2 linked regions of the Homo sapiens genome follow. The protein of the gene in region 1 purifies or fractionates together with the protein of each later gene. This does not show direct contact. Each region holds a gene or a part of one and is shown on either strand. Other genes may lie near its edges. The genes, in order: SPAG1 and NOPCHAP1.

Region 1 (3,817 bases):
ATCAGAAGCTCCCAGTTATAAAATAGTTGGAGAATCCATTCACCCCAAATGAACTACCTGTTTGTGTGTGAGGTAGCAATCTTCTGTGACACTATTACCCTTAATTCATATGAATTCCCTCTTCACATGAAGAGTACAGACAACAAACAGGGACAGATGAGTCTCATTATTCATTGACTCTTGGTGTTTTCATAGTGTGTTAAATGCCTGATTTCAATTTTACAGCAACAAAAAATACCAATATTTATTCTGAAAGGTAATTGTATGTTCCAAGCAGCCGATATTAACAACTTCCATCACGACTCTAGGAATAATTCGCAGTTCTGAACCATGTTTTAGAAAAACATTTCCAGCAGGTCTGTGCAGGATTTTTTCCTATTCCATCATTGGTAATAATTGCACTTCTTGCAGCAGGAACTTGAAATTCTTCTGTTGCAAACTGTAAGACTGCTGTGAAAGGTGTACTTTCAGGAACAGAGTACTTTGTACGCCAGCCGCGGGTCAGACCTCAGAGTGATCTTAAAGGAAACCTTTGACATGGTGGCGCCGGGAGGAACCCAGAACCCACGCCAACTCCGCGGAGCAACCCCACTTCCTCCACGGTGCCGGGGACCACACCGCCCCACTCACCCTTATCCAGTTTTTAAAGTGTGTGATGAAAATTGGTTACTTTGGAGTTCCTTTTTTTCTTCTTTTAATCATTCCATAGATTAACGGGTAAAAATGGAGACTATGCGGGTTAAGGAAAGAGACTGGGAAGCAGCCCTTGAGATCTCCACAGAACCTCAGGGTTCCATGGAACCCAGCCTGCAAACCGCTGGTCTAGATGATCCTAAATAAGGTGCTAACTCTAAAACTTATTTATTTCTTTTTAAGATCTGGTGAGGAAGGATATTATCCTGAACTTACAGAATTTTGTGAAAAGCATCTTCAAGCCTTGGCCCCTGAAAGCAGAGCTTTGAGGAAAGATAAACCAGCAGCAACAGCAGCCAGTTTTACAGCTGAAGAATGGGAAAAAATTGATGGTGATATAAAGGTATATAGTAATACCAATTTTCCATAGATATTGTTGAGACATTCTATATATGTTTACTTCACTTATCGGAAATCCTAGGCTTCTTGTTTGTCCGTAAAGGGCTTTTAGTGTCAATTAGGCAGGATTGGTTGCTTTTTACACCCAGGGGAACATTGCGAATTCGCGTGTGTGTGCGTCCGTACATGTGTATATTTAAATTGATTAAATAATATTCTGTCCTATTAAAAAACCTATAATTTAATCATCTTCAATAAATAGTGCTGTATAAACATGTTTATTTGTAATTTTTTTTCTTTTTTTTTTGAGATGGAGTCTTGCTTTGTTGCCCAGGCTGGAGTGCAGTGGCACGATCTTGGCTCACTGCAACCTCTGCCTCCCAGGTTCAAGTGATTCTCCTGCCTCAGCCTCCCGAGCAGCTGGGATTACAGGTGCATGCCACCATGCCTGGCTAATTTTTGTATTTTTAGTAGAGATGGGGTTTCACCATATTGGCCAGACTTCTCGAACTCCTGACCTCAGGTGATCCACCCACCTCGGCCTCCCAAAGTGCTGGGATTACAGGTGTGAGCCACCATGCCTGGCCTATTTGTAATTTTTTTGCACCTCCCTGATTATTTCCTCAGGATAAATTATTATAATTCAAATTGCTTGGTCAGATGTGGTTGCTCACACCACCTGTAATCCCAGCACTTTGGGAGGCTGAGGCAGAAGGATCACTTCAGGCCAGGAGTTTGAGACCAGCCTGGGCAACATAGGTAGAGCTGTCTCTACAAAAATATAAAAATTAGCTGGACGTGGTGGCATGTGTCTGTAATCCCAGCCATTCAGGAGGCTGAGACAGGAGGATCGCTTTATCCTGAGAGACCGAGGCTGCCGTGAGCTGTGATGGTGTCATTGCACTCCGGCCTGGGTGACAGAGTGAGACCCTGTCTAAAAACAAAAAGCAAGAGAAAGAGAAAAAGAATTTAAATTGTTTGATCAAAGGATTTGAATATTTTTAAGCCTTTTCAAACATATGTTCTCAGAAAAGTTGTACCTTCATACACCACCCCCAACAGTGTATAAGAATGCCCAAGCCAGGTGCAGTGGTGTGTGCCTATAGTCCCAGTTACTCAGGGAGGATTGCTTGAACCCAAGAGTTCAAGGCCAGCCTAGACAATACAGAGAGACCTGGTTTCTTTATTAAAAAAAACAAAAACAAACAAACAAAATGCCCATTTTTAGGTACTCTTTGCTGGATACTGTAATCATTTTTAGTCAATTAAATAGTTGAAAAAATGGTAGTACCATAGTCCCTTCTTATCTTTGGGGCATACTTTCCAAGACCCCCAGTAGATGCCTAAAACTGCAAATAGTACTGAAGCCTAAATATACCATGCTTTTTCCTCTATATGCATATCTATGATAAAGTTTAACTTATAAATTAGGCACACTAAGAGATTAACAATAAAAAACAGAACAATTATAACAGCATACTGTTGTAAGAGTTATGTGAATATGAGCTCTCTTTCTCTCAAAATATCTTACTGTATTGTACTCACCTATTTTTGGATGGCAGTTGACTGTGGGTAACTGAAACCACAGAAAGCAAAATTACAGATAAGGGGAGGACTATTGTAGTATATTTTTTGATTGCTAGAAAAGTTGAGTTATTTTTCATGAATCTGTCACTTAAATTTCTTCTTAAATATTTACAGATTTCTTTTAATCAGCTTTATTGAGATAAAATTTACATTCCATATAAATTACCAACTTTATAGTGTACATTTCACTGAGTTTTGACAAACGTATATGATACAGAACATTTCCATCACCACTAAAAGTTTTCTCTTGCCCATTTGTGGTCAGTGTAGACCCCACTGCCTGGCCTTTGGCAACCACTGAACTGTCAGCATAGTTTTGCCTTTTCTAGACTTGCATATAAATGTAATCATACAGTATGTTGTCATTCCTGTGTGTCTTCTTTCACTTATATAATGCTTTTGAGATTCATCTGTGTTGTTGCATGTGTCCATAGTTTGCTCCTCTGAGTTGCTAAGTAGTATGAAATTGTATGAATATCCCACAGTTTGTTTACCCACTTACCTTTGATAAGACCCGCAGTGGATGCCTAAAACCTAGATAATACTGAGCCCTAAATATACTATGTTTTGACTGCCAAAATGTTTTCCAAAGTGGCTGTACCATTGTGCAATCCTGACAGCAATATATAAAATTTCCACCTGCTTTACATCCTGGTCAGCACATAGTATTGTCCGTTTTGTTAGTTTTAGCCATCCTACCAGGTATCTCATTGTGGTTTTAATTTGCGTATCTCTAGTGACTAATGATATTGAGTGTCTTTTCATGTAACTTCTATTGTGAGGTGTCTTTACATCCTTTGCCCGTTAAAAAAAAATTGCCTTGTGTTCTTATTGAGTTGCCAAATAATTGTTCTTTATCAGATACGTTGCTTTTTTGCCCAGGCTGGAGTGCAGTGGCACCATCACAGCTCGCTGCAGCCTTGACCTCCCAGACTCAAGCGATGCTCCCACTTCAGCCTTCAGAGTAGCTGGGACCACAGGTGTGTACCACCACACCTGGCTATTTTTTTTTTTTTAATTGTTTGTAGAGACAGGGCTTCACTATGTTGTCCAGGCTAGTCTTGAACTCCTGGGCTGCTTTGGCCCCTCAAAGTACTGGGATTACAGCATGAGCCACCATGCCCAGCCATCTTTTTTTTTTTGTTGTTGAGACAGAGCTTTGCTCTTGTTGCCCAGGCTGGAGTGCAATGACACAGTC
Region 2 (3,817 bases), on another chromosome or scaffold:
TTTCAGAACTTGTTATTGGTCTATTCAGGGATTCAACGTTTTCCTGGTTTAATCTTGGGAGAGTGTATGTGTCCAGGAATTTATCCATTTCTTCTAGATTTTCTAGAGGTGTTTATAGTTATTTGTATAGAGTTGTTTATAGTATTCTCTGATGGTGGTTTGTATTTCTGTGGGATCAGTGATGATATCCCCTTTATCATTTTTTATTGTGTCTGTTTGATTCTTCTCTCTTTTCTTCTTTATTAATTGGGCTTGTGGTCTATCTATTTTGTTAATCTTCTCAAAAAACCAGCTCCTGGATTCGTGGATTTTTTGAAGGGTTTTTTGTGTCTCTATCTCCTTCAGTTCTGCTCTGATCTTAGTTATTTCTTGTCTTCTGCTAGCTTTTGAATTTGCTTGCTCTCGCTTCTCTGGTTCTTTTAATTGTGATGTTAGAGTATCGATTTTAGATCTTTCCCGCTTTCTCCTGTGGGCATTTAGTGCTATAAATTTCCCTCTAAACACTGCTTTAGCTGTGTCCCAGAGATTCTGGTATGTTGTGTCTTTGTTCTCATTGGTTTCAAATAATTTATTTATTTCTGCCTAAACTTCGTTATTTACCCAGTAGTCATTCAGGAGCAGGTTGTTCAGTTTCCACATAGTTGTGCATTTTTTAGTGAATTTCTTAATCCTGAGTTTTAATTTGATTGCACTGTGGTCTGAGAGACCATTTGTTATGATTTCCGTTCTTTTGCATTTAGCTGAGGAGTGTTTTACTTCAATTATGTGGTCAATTTTAGAAAAAGTGTGATGTGGTGCTGAGAAGAATGTATATTCTGTTGATTTGGAGTGGAGAGTTCTGTAGATGTCTATTAAGCACACTTGGTCCAGAGCTGAGTTCAAGTCCTGAATAGCCTTGTTAATTTTCTGTCTTGTTGATCTATCTAATACTGACAGTGGGGTGTTAAAGTCTCCCACTATTATTGTGTGGGAGTCTAAGTCTCTTTGTAGGTCTCTAAGAACTTGCTTTGTGAATCTGTGTGCTCCTGTATTGGGTGCATATATATTTAGGATAGTTAGCTCTTCTTGTTGGGTTGATCCCTTTACCATTATGTAATGCCCTTCTTTGTCTTTTTTGATCTTTGTTGGTTTAAAGTCTGTTTTATCGGAGACCAGGATTGCAACCCCTGCTTTTTTTTTGCTTTCCATTTGCTTGGTAAATATTCCTCCATCCCTTTATTTTGAGCCTATGTGTGTCTTTGCACATGAGATGGGTCTCCTGAATACAGCACACTGATGGGTCTTGACTCTTTATCCAGTTTGACTGATGGATCTTGACTCTTTATCCTGTGTCTTTTAATTGGGGCATTTAGTCCATTTACATTTAAGGTTAATATTGTTATGTGCGAATTTGATCCTGTCATTATGATGGTTATTTTTCCCATTAATTGATGCAGTTTCTTCATAGTGTTGATGGTCCTTACAATTTGGTATGTTTTTGCAGTGGCTAGTGCCAGTTTTTCCTTTCCATATTTAGTGCTGCCTTCAGGAGCTCTTGTAAGGCAGGCCTGGTGGTGACAAAATCTCTCAGCATTTGCTTGTCTGTAAAGGATTTTATTTCTCGTTCGCTTATGAAGCTTAGTTTGGCTGGATATGAAATTCTGGGTTGAAAATTCTTCTTTTTAAGAATGTTGAATATTGGCCCCCACTCTCTTCTGGCTTGTAGGGTTTCTTCAGAGAGATCCACTGTTAGTCTGATGGGCTTCCCTTTTTGGGTAATTCAACCTTTCTCTCTGGCTGCCCTTAACATTTTTTCCTTCATTTCAACCTTGGTGAATCTGATGATTATGTGTCTTGGGGTTGCTCTTCTCGAGGAATATCTTCATGGTGTTCTCTGTATTTCCTGAATTTGAATGTTGGCCTGTCTTGCTAGGTTGGGGAAGTTCTCGTGGATAATATCCTGAAGAGTGTTTTCCAACTTGGTTCCATTCTCCCTGTCACTTTCAGGTACACCAATCAAACGTAGGCTAGGTCTTTTCACATAGTCTCATATTTCTTGGACGCTTTGTTCCTTTTCATTCTTTTTTCTCTAATCTGTCTTCACGCTTTATTTCATTAAGTTGATCTTCAATCTCTGATATCCTTTCTCCCACTTGATCGATTAGGCCATTGATACTTGTGTATGCTTCACGAAGTTCTTGGGCTGTGTTTTTCAGCTCCATCAGGTCATTTATGTTCTTCTCTCAACTGGTTATTCTAGTTAGCAATTTCTCTAATCTTTTTTCAAGGTTCTTAGCTTCCTTGCATTGGGTTAGAACATGCTCCTTTAGCTCGGAGGAATTTGTTATTATCTGCCTTCTGAAGCCTACTTCTGTCAATTCGTCAAACTTATTCTCTGTCCAGTTTTGTTTCCTTGCTGGTGAGGAGTTGTGATCCTTTGGAGGAGAAGAGGTGTTCTGGTTTTTGGAATTTTCAGCCTTTTTGCGCTGGGTTTTCCTCATCTTCCTGGATTTACCTACCTTTGCTCTTTTATGTTGGTAACCTTTGGGTGGGGTTTCTGTGTGGACGTCCTTTTTGTTGATGTAGATGCTATTCCTTTCTGTTAGTTTTCCTTCTCTAACAGGCCCCTCTGCTGCAGGTCTGCTGGAGTTTGCTGGAGGTCCACTCCAGACCCTGTTTACCTGGGTATCACCAGCAGAGGCTGCAGAACAGCAAAAATTGCTGCCTGTTCCTTCCTCTGGAAGCTTCCTCCCAGAGGGTCACCCGCTAGATGCCAGCTGGAGATCTCCTGTGTGAGGTTTCTGTCAACCTCTGCTGGGAGGTGTCTCCCAGTCAGTAGGCATAGGGGTCAAGGACCCACTTGAGGAGGCAGTCTGTCCCTTAGCAGAGCTTGAGCACTGTGCTGGGAGATCTGCTCTCTTCAGAGCTGGCAGGCAGGAATGTTTAAGTCTGCTGAAGCTGCGCCCACAGCCACCCGATCCCCCAGGTGTTCTGTCCCAGGGAGATAGGACTTTTATCTATAATCCCCTTGACTGGGACTGCTGCCTTTCTTTCAGAGATGCCCTGCCAGAGAGGAATCTAGAGAGGCAGTCTAGGCACAGCTGCTTTGCCGCACTGTGGTGGGCTCTGCCCAATTTGAATTTCCCTGTGGCTTTATTTACACTGTGAGGAGAAAACTGCCTACTCAAGCCTCAGTCGTGGTGGACACCCCTTTTCCCACCAAGCTCAAGTGTCCCACGTTGACTTCAGACTGCTGTGCTGGCAGTGAGAATTTCAAGCCAGTGGATCTTAGCTTGCTGGGCTCTGTGGGGGTGGGATTTGCTAAGCTTGACCACTTGGCTTTCTATCTTCAGCCCCCTTTCCAGGGGAGTGAACGGTTCTGTCTCGCTGGTGTTCCAGGCACCACTGGGGTATGAAGAAAAACTCCTGCAGCTAGCTCGGTGTTTGCCCAAACAGCCACCCAGCTTTGAGCTTGAAACCCAGGGCCCTGGTGGTGTAGGCACCCGAGGGAATCTCCTGGTCTGCGGGTTGTGAAGACCGTGGGAAAAGCATAGTATCTGGGCCGGAGTGCACCGTTCCTCACGGCACAGTATCTCATGGCTTCCCTTGGCTAGGGGAGGGAGTTCCCTGGCTTCCCTTGGCTTCCCTGGGCTAGGGGAGGGAGTTCCCTAACGCTTTGTGCTTCCCAGGTGAGGCAACACCCCACCCTTCTTCTGCTCCCCATCCATGGGCTGTACCCACTGTCTAACCAGTCCCAATGAGGTGAGCTGGGTACCTCAGTTGGAAATGCAGAAATCGCTTGCCTTCTGCGTTGATCTCGCTGGGAGCTGCAGACCGG

Evidence for each region.
Region 2: the proteins of SPAG1 (region 1) and NOPCHAP1 purify together in Homo sapiens (affinity purification with mass spectrometry, with the first as the bait; one large-scale study listed by BioGRID). This does not show direct contact.

The regions. Positions count from the first base shown.
Region 1 is NC_000008.11:100,164,938-100,168,754, forward strand, and holds part of SPAG1 (sperm-associated antigen 1), read left to right. Parts: intron 1-876; coding exon 877-1,036; intron 1,037-3,817. UniProt on the Homo sapiens protein: May play a role in the cytoplasmic assembly of the ciliary dynein arms. May play a role in fertilization. Binds GTP and has GTPase activity.
Region 2 is NC_000012.12:105,010,135-105,013,951, forward strand, and holds part of NOPCHAP1 (NOP protein chaperone 1), read left to right. Parts: 3' UTR 1-3,817. UniProt on the Homo sapiens protein: Client-loading PAQosome/R2TP complex cofactor that selects NOP58 to promote box C/D small nucleolar ribonucleoprotein (snoRNP) assembly. Acts as a bridge between NOP58 and the R2TP complex via RUVBL1:RUVBL2.